Linked DNA regions of Homo sapiens. The protein of the gene in region 1 purifies or fractionates together with the protein of each later gene. This does not show direct contact. Each region holds a gene or a part of one and is shown in the gene's direction. Other genes may lie near its edges.

The links.
Region 2: the proteins of PYHIN1 (region 1) and LYG2 purify together in Homo sapiens (affinity purification with mass spectrometry; 3 studies listed by BioGRID and IntAct, with this or other methods). This does not show direct contact.
Region 3: the proteins of PYHIN1 (region 1) and TRIM26 purify together in Homo sapiens (affinity purification with mass spectrometry; 4 studies listed by BioGRID and IntAct, with this or other methods). This does not show direct contact.
Region 4: the proteins of PYHIN1 (region 1) and HEPHL1 purify together in Homo sapiens (affinity purification with mass spectrometry; 3 studies listed by BioGRID and IntAct, with this or other methods). This does not show direct contact.

The regions. Positions count from the first base shown.
Region 1 is NC_000001.11:158,927,293-158,934,812, forward strand, and holds the start of PYHIN1 (pyrin and HIN domain-containing protein 1 isoform alpha 1), read left to right. Parts: upstream 1-4,259; 5' UTR 4,260-4,484; intron 4,485-7,520. UniProt on the Homo sapiens protein: Major mediator of the tumor suppressor activity of IFN in breast cancer cells. Promotes ubiquitination and subsequent degradation of MDM2, which leads to p53/TP53 stabilization.
Region 2 is NC_000002.12:99,252,642-99,261,161, reverse strand, and holds the start of LYG2 (lysozyme g-like protein 2 precursor), read left to right. Parts: upstream 1-5,495; 5' UTR 5,496-5,559; intron 5,560-6,024; 5' UTR 6,025-6,142; intron 6,143-6,871; exon of another isoform or gene 6,872-6,876; 5' UTR 6,877-6,901; coding exon 6,902-6,944; intron 6,945-8,520. UniProt on the Homo sapiens protein: May act as a potent antibacterial protein that may play a role in the innate immunity.
Region 3 is NC_000006.12:30,210,097-30,218,535, reverse strand, and holds the start of TRIM26 (tripartite motif-containing protein 26), read left to right. Parts: upstream 1-5,129; 5' UTR 5,130-5,231; intron 5,232-8,439.
Region 4 is NC_000011.10:94,101,223-94,108,742, forward strand, and holds part of HEPHL1 (ferroxidase HEPHL1 precursor), read left to right. Parts: coding exon 1-113; intron 114-1,691; coding exon 1,692-1,798; intron 1,799-3,305; coding exon 3,306-3,528; intron 3,529-4,768; coding exon 4,769-4,908; intron 4,909-7,520. UniProt on the Homo sapiens protein: Is a copper-binding glycoprotein with ferroxidase activity. It oxidizes Fe(2+) to Fe(3+) without releasing radical oxygen species. May be involved in the regulation of intracellular iron content.

The DNA.
Region 1 (7,520 bases):
ACCCATCTGTTCTTGTATGCAGTCTACTTTTTCCATTAGAGCACTTAACACATTAATCATAGTAATTTTAGATTCCCTGTCAGCAAATTTCCACATGAGGATCATATCTGAGTCTGCTTCTAATGGTTCTTTTGACTCTTGAGACTCTGTTTTTCCTTGTCTTTAGCATAACTTGCTTTTTCTTTCTTTCTTTTTTTTTTTTGTCAAAAGGAAGACATATATGATCAGGTAATAGGAACTGAAATAAACAGACCTTTAGTATGAGATTTTTTGTTAGTCTGGCTAGTTGTTAAAACGTTATTTACTTTTTGTCCTAAATGTCGGTGCCAAAGGCTTCAGAATCCTTTACTGTCCTTTTTGTCTCTCCTCTTGCCTTTGAACTTCCCTGAGCATCCTCCTCAGAGAGTCTACCAAGAGTAATCAAGAAAAATAAGGGAGGATAATATAAATGGCCAGTATCAGGAATGTAAAGGGATGGCACTACAGATATTAAAATGGTAATAAAAAATTATGAAAAATATTATGCAAATAAGTTTACTTACGTAATTCCTGTAAAACAAAAATGTATTACAAAAAAAATCCTGTGAAACACAACTTACCAAAACTGTCTTGTAAGGAAATAAAACAACTAAATATTTTTATATCTATTAGAGAAAGAGAAGTTGTAACAAAAATCTTTCCGTAGTGAAAGTTTTGGGAATAGACACTTTATGAATTCCATCAGACATTTGAGGATAAAAGTTTACCATGTCTATACAATCTGTTTTAGAAATGCCAGTTTGCTGTCACACCAAAATTAAAGATATTACACAGAAACTAAACAAAAACCAACTCTCACATGAAAATAAATGCAAAAACACTTTTAAAATATTGAAAAATTATACTTACCAATATACTTATCAATATGACAGAAACTAAACAAAAACCAACTCTCACATGAAAATAAATGCAAAAACACTTTTAAAATATTGAAAAATTATACTTACCAATATACTTATCAATATGACAGAAACTAAACAAAAACCAACTCTCACATGAAAATAAATGCAAAAACACTTTTAAAATATTGAAAAATTATACTTACCAATATACTTATCAATATGATAAATTATAATGCATCATTAAAAGTGTTTTATCTCAGGGATATAAGATTGGTTCAACATTTAAAACTCAATCACCTTTCCCTCTTCCTTGAGAAAGAGAAATCTATTTACTTGAGAGACAAAAGGAGAAGGCACCTGATTGAGGTGGCTGATGGCCATGAATGCATAAAGCAATCTTGCTAACTGAGGCTCTCAACAAATGGGTTTTGTTCTGACTCTTAGGGATAATTAGAGAAAGGTTTTAACACTCTCCATTTCCATTTTCCTCTCTGAGATCACAATAATTATTACAAGGCTTTATCCAGGGGTTTACAATGGACTTTAAAAGTCCCAAACGTGGTTTCTTGGTGTGATTGTGTAAGAGAAAAGCTTCAGCTGACTTAAATTTAAAAGAGTTTAACTGAGCAGTGAATGTTATTCAGGCAGCCTCCCAAGCCAGAGTAGGCTCAGAGACTCCAGCACAGCCACATAGTGGAAGATTTATGAAGAGAAAAAGAAAAGTGAGATACAGAAAATGGACATGAGATAAAGAGCTGGATTGGTTATAGCTCGGAGTTTGCCTTATTTGAACGCGGTTTGAACAAGTTGGCCACATTTGATTGGCCAAAACTTGGTGATTGACACAAGCATATACTACAGTCTGTTTACACTTCCATTTAGGCCATCATTCACGCTGTATGAGAAACCTTTAGGCTGAACTTAGAATATGTAAGAAGGCAGCTTTAGGCTAAACTTGATTTAACATTGCTTTTGATTTAACAAAGCAAAAATAAAAATAAGTAATTATTTTTGCTTTTCTCCTTAGAGGCTTTCTGCCGTCTCCTAGACTGACGACTGGGTACAGATTGACAAACGTTTTCTATAATAAGCCATACAGCAAAATCTTTACACTCTGCAGCCGGATGGACTCTGTTGCTAGTCAACTCTTCATTGCACCATGAAGTAGATATTGACAATGCATAAGTGAGTAATCACAGTTGTGTTTCAATAAAATTTTACTTACAAAAGTGGATGGTGTGTTAGTATTGTCCCACAGGCAGTAATTTACTAACATCTTGGTTAGAACATTAATCGGGTGGGAACTTTTCCTGAGGACTTTGAATGAGCATCGGAATTAGTACTTCAGATGATAAAAAGTCATGAAGGTCCATCCAAGACTTTTACCCCCTTATCAGGAGCTCTCGTATGTTCTATTAGTGAGCTTTCTGTGTGATGGCACAAATTGCAAATTATTGCCCACTGCTTCAGAATCAGCACAAATGCACATTTTTAAAGCATTTCTTTGCTTCATCTATTACAATTTTATCTGCACAGTATGGATTATGGAGCAATGTTCTGAATTGTCTTCATTGGTGACAGTAATTTGTATGTTGTATGCTGGAGTCCTAACCAAAGGCATTACTCTACATGAAATGATTACCAAAAAGGGGAAACAAAAATGTCCTGAAACATGGTAATTTCTACCAAGTTTCCTCTACTCTCTGACCTTTGAATTGGGGTAACCTGACCTTCCTAATATCCCTCTCTACCTACTATCTTAAGACCAACTTAGTGTCTCTACATTAACAGCAACGTAAACCTATAAAAGAAAACCATGAACACTCGAAGGTATTTTTGTGGCCATCCTTCCAGATCCTCCTTGCTTTTTCTTAACTTACTTTTGCTTTGATAAAATTATCATATGGCTCCAAATCCAGACATCAACTATCCTCTCCATGACCCTAGTTTGTACTAAGGCGATCAGCTTTCTTCTGTTCTGTAGATGGCCTCAGATCATTTGTATTATTTGTGAAGGAAACCAAAAATACTTCTCAAAATACTTAGGACTGTTAAGTTAAAGACAGAAAATGGAGGGGAACATGCTGCCTCAGGCACTATTTGCCTGATGGCAGGACATAAATCCGTATTTACTGGAGAAAGCACTTGCTTTTCAGCCCGGAGAAGGCGCCACCAGGAACCTGAGGAATCTGGGAACAGATTTTACTACCTTCCCACGTTTTCCCACCTTTTAAATGACTGGAACTGCTTTCTCCTTTGCTTTTCACTATATAGAACGTATGGCTCTTTATTGAAATACTATTTAAACAAGGTTTCTAAGCCACAGCCTGGAGAGAGAAATACTTTTGAACTGAGGCCTATCCCTTGTGATGAGTAGAGCACACATTAATAAACTGCTTGTTTTTCTTTTGTTAATTTGACGTTTGTTTTCAGGAGAGTGTCAACTAATAACCTAAAAAGGGAAATTTAAAAAAAACTTGTTTTCTCCCCTACAGCTGTATTTCGGGCCCCATTTTCCACTCATGGCCACATCCTGCTTGCAGATCTGCTGCTGGGTTAACACAACATCATCTGCCAGTTGGTGTCGTTTATTTGACATCTTGGGGTTTTAGTACTCTGAAGGACACCCACTGCCCTTAACAGAAAAAATACTGCTGAGCAAAGGGTTTAACAGGACTCTCGGTCTACCAGAAGTTCAGTGCATTTTCCAGGATTTTCAAGGCTTCGATGCTGTCATGTTGTGAGCCCACTATCCACTTGTGTTTTTCCATGAATAATGAAGGAAACCTGAGGAATCATGAATGTAATCATTGAGGTAAAATAACCTAGTCATAGTCAAGAGGACAGCTAGTGTTAAACTCCTTTATATATATTTGAGAAAGGATTTATATATTCATAATAACTTTCTGATCTGGAAAGCCCTAGGTTTGTCAACTATTAATAACTGGGTGAATGCTTCAGGTAGTATTTAAACCAACTGCTATTTCATAGCAGACATTCTCCCATGCAGGAGATGCAGTAAAGTACTGGTAGCAATAGATGCTCCTACCAAGATCTCCCCCTGCAACCGCACAGGAAAGGAGGGAGAAGAAACCACCTTGCTTCTCTCATATTTGACAATCATTCATCGGAATAGAGGTCCCTAATGTCCCACATGTAAGTCTGCTGGTTAAGAAAGTTCTAAGATTGGAACTCCATTCAGATATCAACATTTGTAAGAAAAAAAATTTTAAATATAACTTTGATACAAATTTTACTTTGATTAAGATACCTACAGGAAAGAAACTGTTCATTTTCTCTAACAGGATGGAAAGCAAAAAATATGGGTGGGAGGAGTCTGCACGTTGTTTCACAACTTCTCTCTCCCCAGGGCAAAGCAGAGTATGAGGAAGCCAGCACTAGTCAAGTGACTCTAAGAAGGGCCATTTTCCCTTGTTGTCTTTGAAAATACTTCATTTTCTTAGCATTTCAGGAGATTATAACATCCTGTATTTCAGTTTCTGAGAGCTTTACTGACTGATTTCCCTATTCAAAACAATCCTCATTTCCTACATTTCTGAAGATCTCAAGATCTGGACTACTGTTGAAGAAATTCCCAGTAAGGTGAGTACTGTGGGTATTTTTTATAGAAAAGATCTAGATGCTTCCTTGAAAGCCACAAAATCACAAGGGAAAAATCGATATTGGTTCTTCAGGGCAGTGGGGTGAGGGCAGTAGGGCTGGTATCAACTATATTCAGAAAAGTGAAAACTGCAGTTAATACTTCCAATTCTTTACTTACTTCAAAGATAGTAGATATCCTTTATTCTACAACTGGGGCATGAATGAAGGAATATGCATTTTGACCATTGCAGATTTTAAAACAAATTCTCTGAGTATATATTCTCTGAGGTTAGAAAGCTTGGTGGCCATTGGGGTCTGGGCAAAAGACAAGATAATGATTTCATTCTTTTTTATGGATGCATAGTATTCCACGCTGTATATGCATAACATGGATACGGCTAGAGAACATTACCCTAAGTGAACTAACACAGGAATACCAAATACTGCATGTTCTCACTTATAAGTGGAAGTTAAACATTGAATCCATATGGGCACAAGATGGGAACGGTAGACGCTGGGGACTGCTTGAGAGGAAAGGTGGGAGCAGTATGTGGGTTGGAAGGCTATCTATCTGGTACTATGTCGCTACCTTGGTGATGGGATCACCAGACAACAAGCCTCAGCGACACACAGTTTACTCATTTAACAAGCCTGCACATGTACCCTCTGAACCTAAAATGAAAGTAGAAGATAAAATAAGACAAGATAATGATGTGCACAAAGTATCAGGAAATAATATTAAGTAAAAAACACATCTAGACATACAGCTGTATTTTACGGTATCTCAATTTTACAAAACATGTTCTCACACAAAAACATATGTGAGAACATTTTGTAAATAATATTATTCTACAAGTGCAAACACATAGTAGAAAATGTATCCATTTTGCAAACACAATTATTCAAATAATTCAAATAATTCAAATGTGTCAATATTTTCATAAGTATGTTTAACTTTTACATTAGCATCATTCTATACCAGATGTGAAAGGCAGTTTTTTATTCATTTTAAGATTACTTCCTGCCCTCCTGAAAGTTAATGATGTTTTATTTTTCTAGTGGCAATGTATAGGGGAGAGGCATGGAAGTCAATTTGAAATAGATTTATATTGTCAAAGTTCAGAATTTTTAGAAGACTTTCTGTATAGCCTGGTGCAATATCTCAGTGTACTTGACTAGAATATGAGATTTTAAATGTTGATTTCAGGATTTATATATGTTAGATAAATATTGCTATCAATTATGTTGCTCAAATTTGTAAAAATGTTTTTTTACCTTGTTCATTTAGTATTGGAAGATATAATATAGAACCTCCTATTATAAGACGGTATTTTCTTGTACTCCTCTCAAATTCATATATATAATATATAGATATGCTCACATGCATAGTTGTATAATGTATATTATGTGTGTATGTGATCATGCATACATGTTTCCAAACATAAACATACACATATAAATATATATATTTGTGGCACCGTGTACATATGTGTGTATATGAAGATAAATATATTATATAACATTATATTATCATGAAGGACTATACAATAATGAAAAATAATATACATTTATTATTATTAGATAAATCTATAATTTAAATTATTGTATCTTCCCAGGAATTCAACCTTTTACCATGTGGTATCTGATAATACTCTTTGTCTTAAGATCTTTTAAAAATGATTCTAGCATAGATAAGCTGGCTTTCTTCTAGTTTCTCCTTGCATGATAATTTAAATTTTTTTTCATCTTTCAGTGATCTTTTACTGACAACATACATATAGAAATTTTAAATCAAATTTGATAAAAGTTGTCATTTAACTAGTTAACCTCTTTATGTATAGGCTAATAATTAACATATTTTGGCCTGCTTCTGCTATCTTCACTTCAATTTATAACACTTCTATATTCTCCTACTTGTCTGTTTTTAAAACTTATATTTCCATCTCACCCTTTAAGACAATTACATTAGTAAACTCATATTCTTTTTCTTCCCTCCCTCCACCATGTTGGTATACTTTCTGTTTCTCTTTTCTTTGATCAGGGCTTTCTTTTTAAGTCATAGGCACACATAATCAAGTTCGTTTTTCATTCTTACTTGTCTTTTGGCCTGCAGCTTTTTAAAATTTTTTTTTAATTTTCTATTGAAAAGTACTTCCAAAAATGTTTCTGTGTGCATCTTTGTCTGGAAAAACTACTGAGGCCTTCAGGTTCAGAGAATAGTTTTTGAGGATCTTATGTTTAAATATCACTTTGTTTAGATTGAAATTCTAGTTTTAAAATTATTTTTTCCTTCAAGACAAGATGAGAGCATTTCTTTTGTACCTGGGGGGCTCGGTATGTTTTGAAAATCAGAACTTGGAGGTTTATAAAGATTACTTAATGCACATTTTTCTAGAAACCCCAGTGTTATCAGTGTCATTACTACAAAAGCAAAAGCACTAATATTTCAGCATCAAAACATATGAATATTTGTGTTTAAGTGGAATAAATAAAAATCATACATAGCCTTCTGTAAGCTCACATCTGGTTTCATTTTGCAAATAAATCGTGTTGTCATACTCACAAAACAAATCAAAACTTCCCATTTCTAAACTTTTTGTTTAGCAATTTATATGGGACTTTGGGCCAGCATTATATAAAAATGATTCCATTCTCCTCTTTCAAGTAGATTTGTTGTTGAGAATCAGTTTCAATCTAATTTTTGGATCTTTGCAGGTGATCTAAAGCCTTCATTCTCGGAGGCTTATGGAGTATTTATTTGTTTTTTATGTTCTTCAGTTTCACTATATGTCTTTGTATATATTTTTTCCTTCATTCTATGCTTATCAATCTGAGGACACTCATGTTCTCTCAAGAAGAAAGCAATTAACAGCCCCAGGAATTTAAATATCTAAATTACACAAGAGGTACACAAATACATGTTTTCTATAATTAAAATATTTGTTTTTGTATTTATTTTTATCGAGGTGGAGTTTTGCTCTTGTCACTCAGGCTGGAGTGCAGTGGCATGATATCTGCTCACTGCAGACTGCACCT
Region 2 (8,520 bases), on another chromosome or scaffold:
CTGCACCTCAGCCCTGGACCACTCCAGCCCTCTGTTTTCTCCTTGTCTGTACTTAGGTTGCCGTGTCAGACCCCAGCATTTCAATACCTCCAAATGAACATTTATGGACTCCAATCTCAACTAGTCCATATGTAAACCCCACTCATCTTTTTGGCTCTCTTTCAGCTGTCTCTCCAATTCTACCGGGTAGCTTTTCCACATGCTCTCCGTTTTCTAAGTCCACGTAGTTTTTACTCTCAGCACATGATTTGACCTCCTGTTTCACAAAGGACTTAAAAATCATTAGATAACTCCCTCAGTTTTCTCCTATCAACTCTATACACTGAACTGCATTGCTATCTGATTTTTTTCTCTTTTCTTTCTGTTACAATGGAAGAGGCAGTCCCATTCCTGCCTCAGGCCAATTTCTATGCTTAAGCTTTTGAACTAGCGTCTTCAACATCATTACCTGACCAAATAATCCTATTGTTTTTTGTATCCTCATTTTCTACAGCATTTGATTATATTCAAGTCACTCCCAGGTTAAACCATGACAAAAGGACTGTCTTTGACACAAGTCCTTCTCCAGATACTGCTCCAGCTCTTCTCTCCATCACAGGTATAGTGAACAACTATAGAGCAGTTTTTTACAAAATCATCCAGACTTCTAGGTAAGTGACTGCCTGGGGTCAGAGGGTGAACAGGAGAGAAGAGGGAGGGGAGAGAAACTGGGAATGACTGCTAATGGTTGTGGAGATTCTTCCATGGATAATGAAAATACTCTAAAATTGATTATGCTGATGGTTGCAAAACTCTTATCAACATACTAAAAACCATTGAATTGCACACTTTAAATGAGTGAAGGCTATGATATGTGAATTATACCTCAAATCAAGCTGTTTTTAAAAAATAGCTTACTTGGCCGGGCACGGTGGCTCATGCCTGTAGTCCCAGCACTTTGGCAGGCTGAGGCAGATGGATCACCTGAGGCCAGGAGTTTGAGACCAGCCTGGCCAACATGGTGAAACCCCATCTCTACTAAAAAATACAAAAATTAGCCAGGTGTGGTGGTGGGCACCTGTAATCTCAGCTACTCAGGAGGTTGAGGCAGGAGAATTGCTGGAACCTGGAAGGTGGAAGTTGCAGTGATCCGAGATCATGCCACTGCCCTCCAGCCCAGGCTGACAACAGTGAGTCTCCATCAAAAAAAAAAAAAAAAAAAAGTTTACTTTTGGCACAATGAAAGACATAGTTAGGGGATATCATGAGGCAGTCTTTTTATGGTGATGGGTCAGTTCTGTATCCTGATTATGGTGATGGTTACTTGCATCTACCTGTGGGATAAACGTTCACAGTACTATACGCTTCTGAAATATAAATAAATATTTTTTTTAAAAGAGCGTGTAAAAACAAACTGGGGAAATCCAAATAAGGTCTGTACCTAAGTTTACAGTATTGTATAATACTAATGGTAATGTTCTGGATTTGACATGTACTATAGTTATGTAAGACATTGCCATTGGGGGAAGCTGGGTGAAGGGTACATGAGAACTCTTGGTACTATTTTTGAAGCTTCTTGTGAAATTTAAACTATTTCAAAATGAAAACGTTACTTTAAAATTTTGTTTCAGACTTCTCCCTTCTCCTTTCCAAACCACAGGGAGTCCCTTTTTCAAACAAATATATTCCTAGACATGGTTGAATGATCCAGAGGTGGGCACCTGACCCAGCCCAGGTTCATTGGAATTTTTTCCTGGATTTTTTTTTTAACTTGTGTATTTTTCCATTATATCGTTATACTACAACTGTTAGTCCATTCTTCTGTTGATGAATTTTTTGGAGTGTTTCCAGTTTTGAGCTATTATGAATAAAGCACTGTAAAAATTCTTTTTTTTTCTTTTCTCTTTGCAGAACTTACAATCTGTGAAGATTCTCATACAAGTCTTTTGGGAGACATTTTTTTTTTTTTCATTGCTCTTGGGTAAATAACTAGAAATAAAATTCCTGAGGCATATAGTTATTTACTTTGTTAGAAACTGCTGAACAGTACTACAAAGCAATCATACCATTTTATACTCCAACCAGCAATGTATGAGAGTTCTGTTTTGTTTCATATTCTCACCAATATGTGATATAGCTAGTCTTTGGTTTTAGCCTTTTTAGAGAGTGTGAAATACTGTCTCATTTTGGTTTTATTTTGCATTTCCCTGATGTGTAAAGATGTTTACCAATTTTTCATGAGCTTTATTGGCCATTTGTATATCTTCTTTCCTGAAATGTTGGTCAAATGTTTGACATTGGAAGACCAATAATGCAACCATATAAGTGGCTTCTTCAACAGGGCATACCCTGCATTTTACCTATCATATAGTAGATTAAAACCAAGACAAGAAAAGCACACAGCAGTTAAAGCTTGACATTGATATATCCTGGGGTTAAGTTGAATGTTTTAGTGAAATTTTATGGAAGGGCTCCCCTTCTGCCTTCTTACCAGCCATTGGCGCCAAAGTACCTTTGCCACATATTCTTGGGCAGCTCCCCCATTTTATAGGTTTCAGAGCTGTGAAACAGATGCTTGGGCTGCAGCTGCTTGTGTGGCTGTTTCTGAACTTATCCTTCCTCCACTCCTACCAGGCAGGCTACAGAGTCCTGACAATGAATAGCTCTTGCTTGTCCTGCCAAGTTTTCTTCATGGCTGGAGAGAGACTTCACCTCCTACTTCCTGTCCTATAATTCAGCTGTTTATTTTTCCTGAGTGCATGGATAAACAAACAAATGAATAAATCAACAAGAAGCTAAGCCATCAGGACTTGAGTGCAAACCCATCATGATAGTAACTGGCATCTCTATGAAGCACTGTAGTTTATAACATGTTTTTACATATAAAATTTATTTTTGTCTTCAAAACAAAGTCATGGGGCATTATTATCATCTCCATTTTACAGATGAGGAAAATTAAGGCTCAGGGAGGTTAAATGAGTTGGCTATGGTCATCCTCCTTGGCTGTTGTTCCTGAGAAGGGAAAGCTGTGCCTGGGATTCACAAATAATGACATGGCGGAGACAACCCAGTCTCTATTAGCACAGACTAGTGTTGGGAGGGAGGCAGGTGGGGACGCAGAGGGCGAGGGGACCAAGGGAGCCTGAGGTGCTGGATTCCTTTAACTCCCAAAAGTGCTAACCTAGGGTAGCTCAGGGCACAAGGGCAGGTCTTTGTGTGGTATGAATTGAGAAGTCTTGCCAGGAACTCCTACCAGAATCTACTTCCCTGGCTATACAGAGTACCTCAGTTTTCATAATCATTCCTCTCCTCCTAACTAGGACAGTACTGCTTAAACTTTCCCATTGAAGTTTTCCAATTGCTGAGGCCATTTAGTCGTTAGGGATGATTGGAGTCTCCACCACTGAAGCCAGGAACCCCAAATCTGTTAGGACTCCCCAGAAGCTGCCAGAGAATTGCTGCACTGAAGAGTCTTAGGAGCAGGCAACTGATTTGAGGGGTAGGGGACCAGGCCATAGAGTTTTATTTGTATAGCACAGAAATTGCTTGCATATAGATTGTGTTTTTATTTTGGGGACTGATAGAGATTATGACAGGTGCCAAGTTCCCTTCAAGCCCCTCCTGGAAATAACAGTACAACTTACATGTAGTCATTCTTGGTATCCCTGGGAAGAGATGGAGAATTATTCAGTACATTTCTTCTTAGTGACAAGAAATTTCTAAGGTCATTATACAATAGTACCCACACTTAACCATCCACTGGGTCAGTAGGGTACTGCAGTTAAGAGTTAGGCTTCAGAATGTAACAAACTTAGGTTATGCCCCTTCCTATTATTCTACCAGTCATACCATACAAGGTCAGTGCGTATTAACTACATTATTATTACTGGTGGAGAAAATATAAAGTGACAAAAAACCACTTTGGACTTAGTTAACTTATATTAATTTGCATTTTAGAAATTACAACAGCACCTACAAACATTTGACAGATAGTGGTATAAAAATCTGTGAGTGGTGTTATTTTTCCAGACCACGGACAATGCTTTGTATCCAGATTGATTTGGACCTGTTGCAATGATTGCTCTGCAGAGGCATTTGTCCATCGTGCTGGCACTTCGATACAGTGGAAGAGCATGGATTTTGGAATCTTACAGGCCTAGATTCAAATCCTGGCTCTGTCACATGCTAACTGTGCCATCTTTGACAAGTTACTTAGCTTCTCTGAGTCACAGTTTCCTCATCTCTAAAATAAGGGATAATACCTGCCTCACAGGGCCAGTGGAGGATTGAGTCATATAATATCCATAGGAACCTGACTAATGTTGGGTGTCAAATAAATGTTCAATTGTTCTCTCACAGCTTGAGTGAACAGAACAATCCACATCAGTTTGAAAACAATTTTGGTTGAGTTGCAGAAGCCTGGACATTAAGGACCTCATACCTAGAAGGACTCGTAGCCCCACTAACTGAGAGCAGAAGGATAAGTATTCTTCACATTCAACAGTGCTTTAAATGTTTTATTAACAATGTCTTCTTCCAGTGCATGTAGGGAGAGCCCCAGCCTCCACCTACTCTCTTTTACCTAACTTATCATTCGTAACTTCTTAATCTCCCTTTCTTGAGCTTTCTCATTGCACTTAGCCTGGAAGCCTCAGGTAAGTGGCTCTACTCACCCTGCAGTGAAGTGGGTCACGGGCACAATGTCGCTGGGTCATAGACTATGGGTTTCTAAGGCCTGCCTCAGGGCAGTTAGACTCCTGCAATATCCCTTATTCAAGAGTGGTCCTGACTGCAGTGTTGATGGTGGTGGAGCAGACCCTCCATGGGTCACTTTCCTGAGAGTCAGGTAGGAATCATCCATTGGCTCAGAACAGCCCTGCCACTCTTCCAGGGATGGAAGGCTAGAGGCCATGCCAGAGACGTCTGTTCTACAAGCAGGAAGGCAGGCAGGGCAGAAGTGAATGCCAGTGGACTGTGCAGACCTCAGCTTGGGGAGGGCATGTTCTCCTGGGAGTGGAGGTGGTTTTATTGCCAGGGAGCTGGGAAGTTGCCTGTGGTTTTGTCTTCCTGTTCCCTGTACAGCTGCCTTCCACCTTTCTTCACTCAGTGGATGTGGGGGAGGACTGTGTGCAGTCTGAGAAACTGGACACGCTTGTGGAAGGACCCAGACCAGACTTCTTCCTCCCCTCAGCGCAATGTGCTTTGCCTGTTTCAAGAACGTCCCTTCCATTTCCTGTTCCTGGGGCTGCACAATATGCTTCCTCTCTTCCTTTGGACATAAGCCTGAAGAAAGATACTCTCTTCTTGAAGAAGTTTTCATCCCTGGCTATAATCTTTTTTCCCATATCCTTAGCAAGTATGGGCAAATGAGCACTCACGTTGCTACTCCCTGGTTTTGCATTGATCTCCTAGAGCAGGTGGCCACACTTGCACCTTTTTCTCAGAAGTGGGATTGGAGTAAGGAGCCAAGTTCACCTATCATGATCATGTGACATAGTGGTTTGAGATCATGTGACATACTGGTACGGGGATCATATGACATTGGAATGGGAACAAAAAGCAGGAGACCCAATATTTCAGGTAAATAACCAATCCAAGAATAAAAATTGCTAGTATTTCCTGTTATCCTTTTAAAGTGAATTATCTGTTTCTTATTCGCAAATTTAGAAGCTGTTTGGCACAATTTTAGATATCTAGAAACAATCTATCAAAATATGCCTCCTGAGCAACTTGGGGGTTCATTAGGTTAATTAATTAATAGTGGTTAATAAGCCCTTTGAAATCCTCTTATTAATTGGGTCACCTAAGTCCTAAGTACTATTATAACCAGGCCTAATGAGGTCAATGGTTTAAAGAGAGGGTTTTAAACCATATATAAAGCTCCTCTAATGATCATTGGTACAGGACGAAGGTAAGAAAAGCCAGGTGAGTCTTCATGCTGGTGTTTAAAAGTTTCCTCCACAGCAGTAGAGCCACGCTGATGTCTACTCTGTTGAAGCCAGGTGCGCAGTGATCTACTGACTAATGGATTCTCCAATTGTTAAGCCTATGTTACAGGACAAAGGCCGTCGCTTTGTAAAAGCTTGAAGTGCAGTTTGCTGCTGAGTACAGAAGACCTTTGCAAACAGAGAGGGGAGATTTTCTCTGTAAGGTTGCAAACAAGGTTAGTGCTGGCCTTCTTATGTCTTGTAAAACTTATAAGCTACCATTTGAATGAAACCAAGAATAGAGTTGATTGAGGAAGAAATGGAGCAGAGGAAACCTCTTCTAAGTCACGTTCTCATGCTCCTGTTGGTATTTTGTTTTATTTTGTTTTCCCTACGGAGACCCTGGTATAAGAATGGAAACACCCAGGCATGGTGGCACGCATATGTCGCCCCAGCTACTCAGGAGGCTGAGGTGGGAGGATCGCTTGAGCCCAGGAGTTTGAGGCCATAGTGAGCTATGATTATGCCACTGCACTCCAGCCTGGGTGACAGAGCAAGATCCCATTTCTAAATAAATGAATGAAAGACCAAAACTGATCCTTGAAGCCAGGGGTAGGGTGAATAACTAGAATGAAAAGATCAGTATTTTTTTTTTTAAAAAGAAAGGGAACAAAATTGTGGTGTTACCAAGCTTAGAGGTGGGATGGGAGTGTATATTTAGTTACATATGTAAGATACGCATGACTCATGTCAATATGAAATTGGATTGAAGTGAGATTAGGAGTTTATGCTTAAGAAAGAGAGTGTGCCAACAAACTATGTACTGAGCCTGTGAGAATACTATCTTGAAACAGGGAAATGAGTAGTGAATTGGAAATAACTCTAAACTTTTTAAAATATCAAAGCAAATTTTTCTTTAGGAAATTTTCAGGTTTTAAAATTAACCAGTTTCTATTTCAAATCAGAGCAGGTCCTGGAAGATAAGATTCCCCGCCATGTTATCCTCCGTGGTGTTTTGGGGACTAATTGCCCTCATTGGTAAGTCACTGGCTGAGATTTAGCATTGTTCACAGGGTGTCCACAAAAACCTCCAGCACAATCATGAATCAGAAAGAGCAATGATTACCTGTAATGGAAGAGTGGGCTCTCATTCTGACCAGCTTGGCCATTAATCAACTATTATTTCTATAATTAACAGTGTGTTCTGCTTGCTAAGCAGGTGAAAAACAGGATCTATGGGAATTTCAAATAATCTAATATTTATTGATCTGCTTACTTCCTGTCTGACAATGCACCTATCAGGCTGGATACCTTACCGAGAGGTATATGGAACAGTGCCTTGGAAGCAAAACACATGAAGAGACAATTATCAATGCCAAGCAGTGGATGAGAGTTCAATGTGTATAGGTGGGAAAAAAGCACTAGTCTGGGAAAGGTTTGGGAGGAAGAGCTCACATCCAACTAGAATGCTCAGATGTGAAAGGCTTTTGGGGGGGACATGTCAATTGAAGGATGCTTGGTGATTTAATAAGAAAAAGGAAGAGCCTGCTGGATGGGAAGAAAGATTTCAGTAAAAAAGCAGAGGCAGAAATGAATGAAAAGTCTTTGGGTCAGTGTGGTCTGGACAGACGAGGGGGTTTCTGGGGGGAAGGCTGGAAAGATAGGTTGGTAAGTTGGTAAGGGATCTTGAATAAGAGAATGTGAAAACTCTGACCTAAGCAAAATGAAAAGCCATTATGAGCAATGTTCAAGTTGTCTTTAATTATAGAATGGTGACTGAAAGGAAAGTGTTTCTAAAATGTTTAATTCTAAATTTGGAAAAACAAGGCTACCCGAAAGTAATTTCCAGTTACTTATGGTCAAAACAGGGCAACATAGTTTTAAATTTTTACTCTTTTTAGATTGCCAGGTGAGAGCAGAGTTAAATAGCCAGTAGATTAATTATGAGCTACCATATTAGCTGTGTATAGCTGAAAGGTGACTCTTAATTTAAAAAGGGCTTGTGTGTTTATAAGGCCTACACAGGCAGCGTAGGGTCCATGGTCATATTCCAGTTCCCTTAAAGCAGTGGTTCATAAACATGTGTAAGAGTCAACTGGGAATGCTGGGTAAAAGGCAGCTTCTTTCGCCTTATACTGCAAGATTTTGGTGCAGTAGATCTGGTGTGAAAAGCCCAGTGATAAGCCTTTTTTTTTTTTTTTTTTTTTGAGACAGAGTCTTGCTCTGTCGCCCAGGCTGGAGAGTGCAGTGGTGCGATCTCAGCTCACTGCAAGCTCTGCCTCCTGGGTTCATACCATTCTTCTGCCTCAGCCTCCCAAGTAGCTGGGACTACAGGCGCCCACCATCATGCCCAGCTAATTTTTTTGTATTTTTAGTAGAGACAGGGTTTCACTGTGTTACCCAGGATGGTCTTGATCTCCTGACCTCGTGATCCGTCCGCCTTGGCCTCCCAAAGTGCTGGGATTATAGGTGTGAGCCACCACGCCCGGCCCAGTGATAAGCATTTTTAATAAGCTTCCTGGGTAACTTTGATGCCTGTGGTCTGTGGGCCACACAGTGAGCCTGGCAAAGACTGCCTCCCAGTGAAAGGATACTGAACCTGTCAATATAAGGA
Region 3 (8,439 bases), on another chromosome or scaffold:
GCAATCAACCAAATCCAGTACTGGGAACATTCTATGGGATAAATGAACTGGCTTCTCCAGCAAATTAATGGAATGAAAATAAGGGAAGGGTAGATTGTTATAATAAGATTAAGAGACATAATAATAAAATGCAATGTATTGCCAAAATATAATTTTTAAAAGTCAATGACAGTATCCTATACAAAGAAAAAGTGAGCATGTATCAAAGATGTACTAACAAGAGACTAGTAAAAAAAGAACTAGTTCAAAGAGAATTTGGAAGATTGAATATACATACACTGGACATACATCTTCTATACCTCCACTGAACAAAATTCATTGACATTGCTATTGACCAAGAATCATTTCCATTGATATCACTTTTCTACAAGTTAATGTCTACCCCTAAGGAGTACTCTAAATACCCTAAAATACTAAATCAAAGTTAAACTACCCTAGAGAATTAGATAATTTTTACGTAGGCCTATTAGAAAATGCTACAGTGTCGGCCGGGCGCGTTGTATCAAGCCTGTAATCCCAGCACTTTGGGAGGCCAAGGCAGGAGGATTGCTTGGGTCCAGAAGTTTGAGACCAGCCTGGGCAACATGGCCAGACCTTGTCTGTACAAAAAATACAAAAATTAGCCGGGCATGGTGGCACACATCTGTCCCAGCTACTCAGGAGGCTGAGGTGGGAGAATTGCATTAGCTCAGGAGGTCGAGGCTGTAGTGAGCCATGATTGCACCATTGCACTCTAGCCTGGGTGACAGAGTGAGACCCTGTTTCAAAAAAAAAAAAAAAATTTTTTTTAAGTTGAATTTGTCATTATATATTATACAATATATTTTCACTAACTTTTGAGCTAATAGACATTTAAAAGTCACCAAATTTGGAATACAAAGTATTTTAAATGACATCCCAAGTCATATAAGAGATTGGTTCAGCCTACGCTTTCTGTTCAAAACCCAGTAGTTAATGCTATTAGCATTCAAAATGCCTTTTTTTCCTTTTAAAAAGGACAGTTAAACCTGTTATTTTTTATCCTGCAGCCAGTTCTTAGCACAAAAGCAGGCAGATTTTAGTAGCACAAAATTATTTATTAGCTTATGCCTCTACCAGAAAACAGAAATGTTGGCTTAAAATTGTTTCATTGATGTAACTTTTACCTTTTCCTTTACAGATATTCATTTATTCATTCTGGCCCTAATACCAAGGTATCCTTCACACAAAAGATTCAAACAGATTCTTTGCATCTTTACCAATGGGAGTTTCATGTTTTCAAGTTTTTGTTTGTTTGTTTGTTTGTTTTTTGTTTGGAGGCCTCTTTCCAAGCACTCTAGTATTCTTAAAATCCTGAGATTCTGAATGGTATGATTTAGCTCAATATGTTTATACTAAACTTAGGGGAAAAAAACTAATATATTTTCCTTACCCATCACAAGGTTTATGCTGAGACTTCAATAACAAAAAACAGACTAACAAGAGAAAAGCATGCACATTTATTTTATCCAAGTTTTACATGACATGGGAACTTTCAGAAACGAAAACCCAAAGAAATGGGGACATTTGTGTAGTTGTATAGACAGTCAGGCAGATGTATGATTGCAAGGACAAAAGTGTATGAGCTAACGGTGATAAACTGAGAAGTTGGAAAGGCCTGTCTATTCAGTTTCTTCTTGGCATACCTGTGTGGCAGTCCCTCCCTCAGGGCATAGGAGAGGATGCCTGTTATATAAGGGGCCTCAGATGAAGGAGGGAGAAGGAGGGAGCAGGTCAGAGAGTGACCTTCCTAGATTTTGTGGCCTGCTTCAGGGAAGAAGGGGCGAGGGGAACTCTAGTTTCTATGGCCTGCTTCAGGGCAGAAAGGAGCAAGAGGTCAGAGAAACCTTCCTGTTTCTGCTATTTTCTCAATTTCCAAGGTGCCATATTTTGGGGTGGCATTTCCTGTACCCTGTCATATACAAACTCATTTTTAGACAGCGGCCTTTAGTTCCTCCTGAGGTTAAACCAGAGCTGCTCAAGGAATATACCTACTAAATCTTCTTGCTCCATTTAAGATATTTATTTCAAATGCAAATAATTATACCATACCCTTTGGCCTAGTCAGCACTGATTCACTATTTCAAAGCTTTACATTTAAGCCTCATAATAACCGTACGAAGCAGATCTAGCTACTTCCATGTTACAGAAGAAGAACCTGTGGCACACAGAGGTTGAGCAGCTGCCCCAAAGCCTCACAGAATGTGGCAGACTGGAGAATTCAACGCAGAACTCTTACCCAGCCCCATATGCTGCCTTGGCCTCCATCTGGTATGACCACAGAAATGGAGAGCTGGAGGAAGGAATTTCAACTCTGCTTCAGAACCTTAAATGAAGCAGGAAGCTGTAGAGGGGCACAAAGCTACAAAGCTGCTCCAAAGCTGTCTCCTCCAACACAAAGCAGAAATTGTGTTCCCAGCATCCATTTCTGTTACCCTTACTTGGACTTGAGAAGCTGTATCAATCAAGATGTAGTGTGGTGGGAGAGGGACTCAGTGCATGACTGATACCCAGCCAAGCAGGGCCAGGCAGCTTTAGAAATGCCCACACTGGGGAATTGAACAATGAGAACACATGGACACAAGAAGGGGAACATCACACACCAGGGGCTGTTGTGGGGTGGGGGGAGGGGGGAGGGATAGCTTTAGGAGAGATATACCTAATGCTAAATGATAACAAACCTGCACGTTGTGAACATGTACCCTAAAACTTAAAGTGTAATAATAATAAAATTTTTTTACAAAAAGAAAAAGAAATGCCCACACTGAGCTCATTTCATTTAACAAACATTTATTTACATGGAAGCCATGTGCATGGAAGACAGGTGTTGTCTCAACTCTCTTGGGGCGTACACTGAGGGGGAGGAAGATCGAAAATAAACACATTGACAAAGAAATGAACAAGGTGCTTTCAAATGGCAACAAATGCATGAAGAAAGGGAAACAGAATAATGCATGATGGGGAACTGGTTTCAACTGGGTGAGGGAGGAAGACCTTTCTGAGATGTAGACATGACTGACAAGAAGCGGGCAGCCATGCAAGGGGCTGGGGCAGGGAGTTTCAAGACCAGGTGTAAGGTGAAAGCACAGGGACCGAGGGAGAAGTGGCATGAGGGAGGTCAGAGAGTTAAGCAGAGCTGTCATGTCAGGAGCCCCAGCCCCTGCAAGAGTCTTCCATGCCCCTCTAAGTGTGCTGAGAGGATAGAGAATTTTAAGTGGGGTGGTGGATTTGTGGCTGGAGTCTGCCCAGAATGGTCTGTGAATAGGCCAAAGACCTCAGGACAGGGAGAAAACGCTTAGTGGCACAGCATTATTTTTTATTTTATTATTATTTTTTGAGACGGAGTCTCGCTCCGTCCCCAGGCTGGAGTGCAGTGGGGCGATCTCGGCTCACTGCAACCTCCGCCTCCCGGGTTCAAGCGATTCTCTTGCCTCAGCCTCCTGAGTAGCTGGGACTACAGGTGCGCGCCACCACGCCCGGCTAATTTTTGTATTTTTAGTAGAGACGGGGTTTCACCATGTTGGCCAGGATGGTCTCGATCTCTTGACCTCGTGATCCGCCCACCTCGGCCTCCCAAAGTGCTGAGATTACAGGCGTGAGCCACCGCGCTCGGCGGCAGAGCATTATTTAAGGAGCATGTTAAACACACTTTCTTCCCACACCACCAACTAAAAAAGCAGGTATCAAGAGGGTCTAGGTAGGTGCTGAGACCACCTCCAGAGCACAGGCCCGCCAGAGTTGTGCTCAGCAGGTGAGGTCTACACTCCTCTCAGCCCGGAGGGGCAGCGTGAGTTATACTGCTGGACAAAGGGGAAAAAGACAAAATGCTGGGCTGGGGTAGAAGGGAAGGACGCGGGTGTTAAATGTGGGCGTGGTTTCTTCTGAATGTCCCACCCACTCCACTATACATTGCTTAAATGCAGTGCAAATTTCCCTACCCCCAGCGGAGGAGGGGTGAAGATTCAGCAGGTTTTAGGGTCTAGGACCCTGAGCTCCTCCATTCATGAATACCCAAACAACTGTAGCCCACCCTCTCACCACTGCCTAGGCGGACGACCAGTGTCCCCAGCTAGATCTCTACCCTTAGGAGCAGGGCACTGGCTGACCCGGAGAACCTGCGCCGCCTCTTCTCAGCCTGCTGCCAGCCCAGTGCACGAGCTGAATGCCGCTGCCGCCTGGCTGGCCGGGAAAGACGGGGATCTTGACGCGGCGGCGCCTGGGACACGGCAACCGCAGCACAGGGCATGGCCCTGCGGCTGGACCGGACGCGGCGGCTGCAGGCAGAGCAGGAAGAGAGCGCAGGCTGGGCAGCGGCGTACGCTTCGGCGACGTCAGCTTCCGGGGCCGTGGACGGGGGCGCGCCCGAGCCTCCTGGAAACCTCCCCACCAAGGACCTGGGGAACCCAAGTCTCGGCCCGCTTTGTAGCCTCTGGTTTCTAAATTCAGCGTCGAGGAGCGAAAACAACCCCCCTGAACTGGGCCCAGACCCTTAAGCTCCTGGAACCTCAGTTTTTCCTTCCGTCGAATGGCGACAATGGCTGTCTGGTTGAACGTTATTTTACCTAGGAAGTAATAATTTTCGTAAATAGGTCTCTGAGAGTATTTGCTTGCTAAAATCCTGCTTTGTCCTGGAAGCAAATTTAGGCCACGTTAGGGGCGGGGACTTCGTATTTGATGTTGAGCACCTGGCGAGCGCCACCTTCGCCTCAAAGCGCCCTCGGACCCTGATCCAGCATAAGGCCAGAGTTGGGCAGTGAGGGGTCTCGAGAGGTGGAAAGGGGATTATTGCCCTCTCAAGAGTCCTACGTAGGTGACTCCTAAGCCTTAGCATTTACTCCCTTAGACCGTGTAACAGGCCACCCCAATTACGCGCCAAACTCAGGCTGCGGCTCTTGGCGCAGCCTCGGTCCCGCCTGATTTCAGTTTCCATTTCGCTGCCCCTGGTGCCCCACCGCCCGCGGCTGTCTGGGGATTTGCCCGGTGATCAGTGACGTAAAAGAGACTAAGGTTCCCATTGGATGGCGAAGTTCGGCAGGAGCCAATCCCGGGGCTGGTCCGGGAGAAATCTCGGCGAAGGGCCCCGAATAGCCGGGAGATTACGGGGCGGGGACGAGCTGTCGCGCTGGTTGCTCGTGCAGGAGCGGGACCCGGAACAGACCGCCGTGAGAGAGGAGGGGTGCCGGCCGGGATTCGCGGCCCGGAGCTCGGGACCGGTGAGTAGGGGGTGCACATGAGACATACAGCGAAGCAACAGTCTCGTACGCTCACCGGGTTTGGGGCGACCCAACGCAGCCGCCGGGCCCGGGTTCAAAACGGGGCCAGGCCCCCGGGCGGGCTCAGGAGGGGGTCAAGTTCGCTGCGTCCTCCCTGCCAGCCAGATCCCTCCTGTTTGCTTGTCCTTACATTCTCCCCCTCCTCTTGGGTCTTTCTCGCTTTCTGGTATCCTACTCAGACTCCCATCCATTCTAGTCTGCGGAACCAGAAGTAAGCGGGGCCTGGATGACCGTCCGGTTGCTTGGAGCCTGGTAGATAGGCGACTAATCCAGCTCCCTGACCAAAGTGTCATGCTTTCTTTCTCTTTCTTTTTTTTTTTTTTTTTTTTGTTCGGAGTAAACCGGTTTAGCCACAAATACTTGGAGCTGTGCTTTCACTCCTTCCAGCTCATTAGCATTTTTCTTACTGATTTTCTCCCTATTTGGCCTTAGAAAAAAAGTGTAAATTTAACTCTGTGGAGTAAATGGGAGGGACACACTTCCAAATCTCCAGTAGATTTCAAATTTTGACCCACGATTTGTGTGTACTTCAAAAGAGGGGAGAATGACATTCGTTTATGCATGCCTTAACCTCCTGTTTTTAACTCTTAGCTGAAATCATAATCCCTAACATGTTTTTCCCCAAGTTCAAAAAAATCACCTTTAAAAAAAATAGGCTTTTTATGTTTCAAAAATTGCAATTTTATTGTTTAAGTAGACTTTATTTCTTACAACACTTTTAGATTTACAGAAGAATTGAGAAGATAGTACAAACTTCCCACATGCTCCAAACCGGATCCCCTGTTATTAACATCTTACCTCAGTGTGGTACATTTGTTGCAGTTAACCAATATCAATACATTATTATTGACCAAAGTCCATAGTGTGTTCAGATTTCCTTAGTTTTTACCTCAGTACTTTTTCTGTTTCATGATCCCATGGAGGTTACCACATTACATTTAGTTGTCATGTCTCCTTATGCTCCTCTTGGCTGTGGGAGTTTCTCAGACTTGTTTTGATGACCTTGACAGCATTGAAGAATACTGGTCGTGTATGTTGTAGGATGCCCCTCTATTGGAATTTGATGTTTTTCTCCTAAGACTGGGCTTATGGGTAACTGGGAGGAAGACCACAGAGGTAGATTGCCATTATCATCCCATCGTATCAAGGGCATGTACTAACATGATTTATGACTTAATATTGATTTGGGTGAGATAGTGTTTTTCAGGTTTCTCCACTGTACAGTTAGTCTCTTTTCCACTCTTTGCGTGTATTGTCCTCTTTAGAAGGAAGTCACTAAGTGCAGCCCATACCTAGGGAGCCAAGAGTTATATTCCCCCTTCTTGAGGGCAAGTATCTACATATTATTGTTTGCAGTTATTCTGCATGGAAGATTTGTTTCTCTCTTCCCCCAATTTATTAATTTATTCAATCATTAATTTCAGTGTAGACTCAGGGACATTTATTTTATACTTTGGTTTATAATCCAATACTACTTAATTTTGTTGCTCAAATTACTGTGGCTTTGGCTGTTGGGAGCTCTTTTCACATTGGCTCCTGTGCTCTTTCATAGTATTTTTATAGAGCTTTTTGCTAATGAGACACTCGTACTTATGTGACCTTGCCTCAACCTCAAATAGCCTGGTAAACTTGGCAAAATATTTTCCCCTTGTTAAGAGGTAAGGAGACTGAAGGCCTAAGGCAGTGGGTGACTTCTTAGATATCACTTCCTGCAGGGGAGTAACAGGTTGGACTCAGATTGTGTGTGACCACCACAGAAGACACTGCAAACCCCCGAAGAGAGTCCATGGTCTGTATTGAGGCTTCTTGGAATGACTTCAGACTTGGACCCCCCCAGGATCAGAATAGAAAAGACACAGAGAATGGGAAATTGGTTTGAGAAGACAAAAACATAAATTGGCTGGCATCAGGATGAATTAGATTTTGCCAGCTTTATAGAAATGGAATTTTGTTCTTCCCCCCAAAATTGTGTGTGTGTGGAGGGAGGCCAAGAGATATCTAGGTAATGTGTGTGGGCAAGAATGTCTAATCTAAAGAGAGCCCTGGAAGCCTGCTGCTGAAGCAGAATTTTAATGTGGGAAAGGGGGGTGTGTAGTGAAAGGGGGAAGAATGGAGATGGCAGGGCTCTGGAATTAGAGGAGGTCATTCATTTCACAAACATTTGCAGACCCCCTACTTTGTGCCAGATATTGGAGATAAAAAGGTCAGTGAGGCATGACCTTTGGGTTCACATTCTGGTGGGAGAGAAGACAGATAAAAATATCAATTACAGCCACTTATCCATAGCTTAGTTTTCCGTGGTTTCCGTTACCCATGGTCAACCTCAGCCCAAAGACAGTAAACAGAAAATTCCAGAAGTAAACAATTCATAAGTTTTAGATGTGCATTGTTCTGAGTAGCATGATGAAATCTCTTGCCCTCCCACTGTTCCTTCATCACAAGAAGGGTAAGTACAGTACAAGATAGTTTGAGAGAGAGAGAGACCACATGCATATAACTTTTATTACGGTATATTGTTATTCTGTTGTGTTATTATTGTTAATCTATTTCTGTGCCTACTTTATAAACTTTATTACAAGTGTGTATGTGTAGGAGAAACAGGTTTCAGACATCCACTGGGGGTTTTGGAATGCATCTCCTGAGGATTGAGGGGACTCCTGTATGAATGTATCTTTAGCGGATGGGGGGTGCTACTGTATGAAGCACTGTGATAGTGCTATTGTAGAAATACAGTGTATGCAAAGCTGCAGGAGGAGGGATACATTCAACTCAGAGGTGGGATGGGTACAGGAAACACCTCACAGATAAGGGGACAAATTGTATTCAAGCCTTCAAGGATGCGCTGGACTGGAGAGAAGAGCATGTACAAGGGAATGGGTGGAGAGTGGGGAGTGAAGAAGGGGCTGTCTTCCTGGTTCAGTGTATCTAATGGCCAGAGAATTAGGTAGGACGAGGAGGGATTTGGGGCTGGATGGGTAAGTTGGGGCTAGCCGGATGCAGGGCAGGGGAGGATGTCTGTGCAGTTTTTTTTTTTTGTTTTGAGTCAGAGTCTCGCTCTGTCACCCAGGCTGGAGTGCAGTGGCGTGATCTCAGCTCACTGCAACCTCCGCCTCCTGGGTTCAAGCGATTCTCCTGCCTCAGCCTCCCG
Region 4 (7,520 bases), on another chromosome or scaffold:
CACCGTCCTGATCATATTTAAGAACAAAGCCAGTAGGCCCTACTCCATCTCAGCCCAGGGTGTGGAGGAGATGGATAGTGGAAAGCAATTCCAAGTGCCCATGACAAAACCAGGTAAGTTGTGTCAGAGGTCTGCTCCATCTTGAAGAAGAACATTGGCGTCAACTCTTTTCTGGTCTCAGAGGTGTCTTAAAGAGCTCATCTTAATGTCAATGTGTTTCAGCCATCATCTAGTCACTCTGGTATGAGATCATCATTCATCCAATGACCAAATGTTTAGGAATTTCTAGGGTTCCATTAGAAACCTCCATTAGGGACCCCATTGTCAACATCCCCCACCAGAGTAGTACATTTGTTGTAATTGATGAACCTACATTGATACATCATTATCCCCTAAAGCCCATAATTTACATTAGGGTTCAGTATTGGTGTGTATACTCTAAGGGTTTTGACAAATGCACAACAACATGTATCCACCATTTTAGTCCTATAAAGAATAGTTTCACTGCCCTAAAAATTCTCCGTGCTCTGGTGTTTATTTTTTCCTCTTCCTTAACCCCTGGCAACCACTGATCTTTTTACTGTCTCCATAGCTGTTCTTACAGTAGCTCCCCCTTATCACGGTTTTGCTTTCCTTAGTTTTAGTTACCTGAATCAATCTTGGTCTGAAAATATTAAGAAATTTTGAGATAACTTCAATTAGAGACAATAAAAAGATATTTTGAGAGTGAGAGTCTACATTCACATAGCTTTTATTATAGTGTACTGTTATAATTGTCATATTTTATTATTAGTAATTATTGTCAATCTCTTACTGTGCCTAATTTATAAATTAATTATAGGTATGTCTGTATAGGAAAACACATAGTATATATAGGTATGGCACTGTCTGTGGTTTCAAGCATCCCCTGGGGGTCTTGGAATGTATCTCTCCTGGACAAAGGGGGACTACTGTAGTAAACATAAAAATTAACACATTAACTGCCTTCAAAATGAAGCATTATCCTGTGTATTTAATGACATTATTTCATTTAATCCTCACAACAATTAGAAAACTATGATGACCAACCCACTTTACAGATAAGGATACTAAAGGTTAGTGACATTAGGTAGCTGGTCAAATGTGGGATAAATAGGAAGTCATAGGGTTGAGATTTGGAACTAGGTCTCTCTGATTCTGGTTCTCACCAGATCTCACCTGCCCACTTGAGAAGCTTTTAAAAAACACTGGCACCAGAGTCCTAGACCCTAGACTCTCTGATTTCACTGTCTGGGGTGAGGCCTGAGCAGCAAGGGCTTACAAAGCTCCCTGGTGACTCCCATAAGAGGCCAAAGCAGAGGTCCTTGATGACAAAGATGTGCTCAAGGACAGCTCTTGGGAAGGAGATAAAACATTTAAGGAGGAAAAACAGTGAGGTATAAAATGTTTTTATTTCCTGAATACACACCAGTTGACAATAGAAAAATGCAAACTAGAGGGAAGGCTGGAGCCTGAAATGACAAATCTGCCATTTCATTTTGAAATAGTAGAAATCAAGATGGGAGTTTAATAAGAACATTTGTAATGAATGAGTAATTCTCTCCAGCAATAAACATTAATGAAAATATATAAAGACCTGCTTATATTTCTTCAGATAAATCATCTGAAACACAGATAATTCTAATAAATTTTTTCCATTTCATTTATTACAGGAGAAGTAAAAACTTATAGATGGAATATCCCTAAAAGATCCGGTCCAGGGCCTTCTGATCCCAATTGTATTCCATGGGTTTACTATTCAACAGTAAACTTTGTGAAGGTAAGGTGGAGAAAGCAACCAAAAGGCTTAAAATAATTTGGATGAAAGTTGACTACTTGGGTCATCACAATTTGGGTTGGTATATGTGAAAGCGTATAATGATTTAGAGCAAGGGTCTCATACTATGGCCCATTTACGAAATCTAGACATGCTGGACGTTTACATTGTCAATGGTTGACTTGAGTAGCTGCAACAGAGACTATATGGCCCACAAAGTCAAAAATATTTACTATCTGGTGATTTTTTTTTTCCCAAAAAAAAAAAAAAAAAAAAAAAGTTTGGTGACCCTTGACTTAAAGTATGGGGAATAAAAACAAAATCCCAATGTTTCAATTACCAAATTTAGAACTTAAAAAGATAAAAGGTTTGAAGCAAAAGAGGATATGTAAATATACAACAATAAAATAAATATAACTTAGAGTACAATTTATGTATGGTTTTGGATGTGTGAAATCTGTTTATTTTAAATGCATTATTATCAGGGCTACTAGGGCTCAGGAGAAGAAAGTTCACTCTAAACATAGTAACTGAAACTACAAAATTGTTTGAATGATTAATGATCTAACTTTGAAATAAAAGGCAAAGATTCAACATTGAATTTGAGCCAGGTATGTGTATGTAAAACAACCACAGTCTTTAATTACATGCCATAAACCAAAGTCCAATCTAAAGTCGTTATTTGATGTAAAATGTAAGCATTGCCTATTAAAGAAAAAAAGGGAGGGATTATCATAACCTTCCTCTTAGGTATTAGATGGCTTGTATTAATGTCTTTGAGTTATACTGGACAGTTCTAGAGTTCAGGAGATAGAAATACAAGGCACTTGAATAAATAAACTTACATATGAGAATTATGGGAAAATCCAAATTTATTTATGCATCACAACAAATACTTATTGAGCACTTGTGATGTGCAAATGACCCCACCAAATACTATGAGAGATGCAGATACTCTTGTCTTAAAGAAACTTATAACTTTGTGGGAAAATAATATGTCCACACTTGTAACTGTAATAGAGCTCTGAATCTGGTGAATTCTATAGGAGTGGCAGGCTAACTAAAGTACTATAGAAGGTTTTGGAGGGAGAGTCTAGGAAGAAAGAGCATTATGAGCACAGCTGAAAATAGGGAAGTAGAGGGAGTGTTTGGGACATGTTGAGAGTCCCATTTGGCTATCATATGGGGTCCAGTAGTAAATCAAGGGGTAGCCTAAGTCAGAAAATTTCATTAGGGGAGCACATGGAGGGCTCACAGACCTGCAAGGGTTTGTATTTAATTCTGTAGGCCACGGAAAATCACTGAAGACTTCTAGATACGGGAGTATAAAGATTACTGTGATGGTGGTCAACAGGATGGGCTGGAGGTGGGGTGAATCAGAGCTGAGAGAAGAATCAATTTCTAGTCCAGGGTGAGGTATTATGACCCTACACTAGAATGGTGGCAGGTGGAATGAAATATTATTAAATTACTTAATGGCTCTTTTAACTCAGTTTATTTTTTCTTCCAGGATACGTATAGTGGTTTGATGGGTCCTCTGATTACATGCCGAAAAGGAGTCTTGAATGAAAAGGGAAGAAGAAGTGACGTTGATTATGAATTTGCTCTCTTGTTTTTGGTATTTAATGAGAATGAATCCTGGTATCTGGATGACAATATTAAGAAGTATCTCAACAAAGATCCACGAGATTTTAAGCGCACTGATGATTTTGAGGAAAGCAACAGAATGCATGGTATATCCAAAGTTTAAAAAGAAGCCTATGTTGAGATAAGCTCATAGGAATTCCTGTAAATGTAGGAGGCTCCCAGCATCCTTCTCTGAGCCTTTCCTCCTTCCCAGGGGCACCTGGACTGAAGAAAGTCCTCTAATGCTTTCCTTCAGACTGAACCAGCCTAGCCACTGATTGGCTGGCAGCAAAGTCATTGAGGCTTTGTACTAACTTGTAGGGACATGTATTTCTGAATCCTGGGATCTCTAAGCTCTAAGACTGTAAAGTAATTCTTTAAAAACAAATCATCATTTATTGTCATATTTTTATAAGAATATGCCATAACTTCTATTTGTTTAAATTTAAGGGCCAGGTTTAATTGTCTCTGGGATATGAAACACTACCATCAAATTTCTGTTTTAATGTATCTGTGTTACTTCTACATAATTTAAGGTAGTTTGTTGGTGGGAGTAATGTGTTCACATTGACACATCCACAGTTTCTCACCAACAGCTATTTTTGACCAAAAGTGCACAAAAAGGCCTTGCCCAAGGTCACAAAGCTACTTGTTAATATAGATTAGAATATAGTAGCCTGATTCCCCATTCAGCTACTCTTTCCCCTACCAGTTTTGCTTTCTTCTCCTAAAGATGTCTTAGTATGCTCTCCATTTTTAATGAATGCAGGTCATTTGGTTGCACCACAATGCACAGAATCAAAAGTCAGTAGACAGTGGAGGAGTGGGAGTCACCATCATGTAAACTCAGTTTGCTTTGGTCATTGTTAGGTCATGAGCTCAGCCCGTGTGAAGCTCTCTTTTATTTTTGGAGATTCAGCCAGGCTTAAACTATTCTCAACAAGTGAAATATTAAGAAAATACCTTCTAAGTCACTCAATTTTTATTTACATAAACTTGTTTATGCCTTGATTTGTTCTCTGTAGAGTGGTATAAATCTGACTACCTCTCCAATGAGACTGTATTTCCCTTCATAAAGAGATTATGCTGAATAAACAAACAAAACACTGCCACCAAGATACGGCTTTAAAACTGCTATTTCTCTGTTCTCGCTCTCTTTGTAGAAGGATTTCTCAGTTATCTGAATTTTGGGTCTAGAATGGTAGGACACTGCTAGGGGTGAGTGAGATTGTTGCATGTTTACTAGACAGATGAAAATATCAGTGACCTAAAGATCTTCTGGAAACATTTAAAAAATCAGCTTATCTTTTAACTAACCAAAGGTTATTTTCTTATCACCTTTTAAAGCCATTAATGGAAAGATTTTTGGGAATCTCCATGGCCTCATAATGAACGAAGATACAATGACAAACTGGTATTTGTTAGGGATAGGAAGTGAAGTGGACATACATACCATCCATTATCATGCTGAGAGCTTTCTTTTCAAAGTAAGTATAAGGAAAGTGCTTTGGGAAAGACGTTTTTGAACTAACAAATTCAATGTATTTCCAGTGGAAAATAAGAGTTACTTGGCAATAATGCTTGTGAGGATAGGTGAGAATGGAACAGAATAATGTGATTGTACCGTTTCCCTGGTGGATATTTCTTTTCTTTTTTTTTTTTTTTTTGAGACGGAGTCTTGCTCTGTTGCCCAGGGCGGAGTGCAGTGGCACAATCTCAGCTCACTGCAAGCTCCACCTCCCGGGTTCATGTCATTCTCCTGCCTCAGCCTCCCGAGTAGCTGGGACTACAGGTGTGTCCCACCACGCCTGGCTAATTTTTTTTGTATTTTTTAGTAGAGACGGGGTTTCACCATGTTAGCCAGGATGGTCTCAATCTCCTGACCTCGTGATCTGCCCGCCTCGGCCTCCCACAGTGCTGAGATTACAGGCGTGAGCCACCACGCCAGGCCTGGCTATTTCTTAATATGTATATGTATATTATTGTGCTTATAAAAATCTCTCCAAGCCTCAGGTGAGAGTTTTCTCATTAGTGATCTGGGGATAACTCTGACCACCCTGGAATATGCTGTTAATATTGTATATGAAACCACGGACACTGACAGCATTCGTCCCTTTTCCTCACCCTTCCTTTTTTCTTTCCCTTTCCTTCTCCCCACCCTTTTCTTTTTCTGTGTGATTAGCTAACAGAATAGCTCTATCCAGTAAAGGAGCTATTTTGAGCTCTGGCCTAAGCCCTGAAACTTTATCTTGACTTTTGCCCTAGTGAGCTGGGCTGGACCATGTGTGACTTTCTACCCTCTAGCATCAAGCTGTACCATATGGGTGGTGCTCACTGTACAGCAGAGCCATCTGGGGAACTATGTAAAAACCCAACTGCCAGGCCCGACCCAGACCTGCTGAATCAGAATCTCCATGGAAAGGTCCAAATAGTCTGTCATCCGAAGTTCTCAGTGCTTTCTACAAGGAAGTGGAATAGAAAAGAACAATCATATCCAATGTGTGGAGAAAACTGGAATTGATCTTTTCTAGTTAGACACGAATAAACGGTAACTTTAATAAAACATTTAATATCCTTTCTCCTTTGTATATTTCAACGTTGTTTACGACACCAAGTATTAGCCTGCTATGATTAGAGTTTCACATATTAAATGGCTATGCTGCTTTTCAGAATTTGGCTTTTTTAAACTCACATTTTAAAAATTATATTAAAAATTTATAAAATTTAATACACAAAATTATAAAAATTTACATATACACTTTAAAAATAAGATATAATTTACATTGAATACAATTCACCATATTTAGTGTACAGTTCTCTTTTGATAAGCACATACAGTAGTGTAACGAACAACAATCACAATATAGAATACTTTTATTTCCCCCACAAATTTTACCATTGCACCCTCTAGTGTCAACTACTTCCCCATACTTAACACTTGTCAACCACTGTCTCTATAGTTTTGCCTTTTTTGAAAGGTTATGTGGAAATCATAGGTTGTAGCATCTTGAATCTGGCTTGTTTGATTTAACATAGGCATTCAAATTGTATCCATCTTGTTATGTGTATCAGTGGTTTGTTTCTTGTGACTGTTGAGTAGTATTCCATTGTAAGGATATAATGCAGTTTGTTTATCTATTCTCCTGTTGAGGAACATTTGAGTTATTTTCAAGTTTGTTTATTACAAATCAAGTCATTACAAACATTTGTGCACATGTTTTTGTGTGAACATATGTTTTCATTTTCCTTGAGAAAATACCTAGAAGTAGGATTGCTAAGCCATGTGATAAGTGTATGTTTGATTTCATAAGAAACCACCAAACTGTTTTCCAAAAAGGCAGTATCATTTTGCATTTCCAAGGAAATATACGAGAACTCCATATGTTGCACATCCACATATGCAGTTGGTATTTTTAGTTTTTATTTCATTTTTTTCCCTTAGGCATTCCCTCCTTGGGGAGGGGATATAGTGGTATCTCATTGTTTTTCATTTACATTTTCCCAGTGGCTAATGATATTGAGCATCTTTTCATGTGTTTGTTTACCATCTGTCATCTGTAAATCTTTGGTGAAGTGTCCAAATTGTAAGCCCATTTAAAAAAATTGGGTTACTTGTTTCCTTATTGTAGAGTTTGAGGGCTTTATATATTCTGGATACAAATCCTTTTTCAGTGATGTGACTCACAAATATTTGCTTCCAGTTTGTGGCTTATCTTTTCATTCTCTTAACAGCTTTCAAATAGAAGTTCTTAATTTTTGATGAAGTAAAATGAAGTACAATTTTTCTTTTTTCTCTTTTATAGATCATACTTTTGGTGTCATGTATAAAAAATTTTGGCCTTACTGAAGGTCCCAAAAAAGGTCTCTGTTTTCTTTTAGAAGTGGTATAGTTTTAGATTTAGGGCTCTGATACATTTTAATTTTCATATGTGGTTCAAGATATGAAATAAGGTTCATTTTTTTTTCATATATATGTCCAAATGTTCCATCACCACTCATTGAAAAGATCATCTTTTTTTCCCACAGAATTGACTCTTTACTTTTGTGAAAATCATATTGACCACATATATGTGGGTCTATGTCTGGGCGGTCTCTTCTG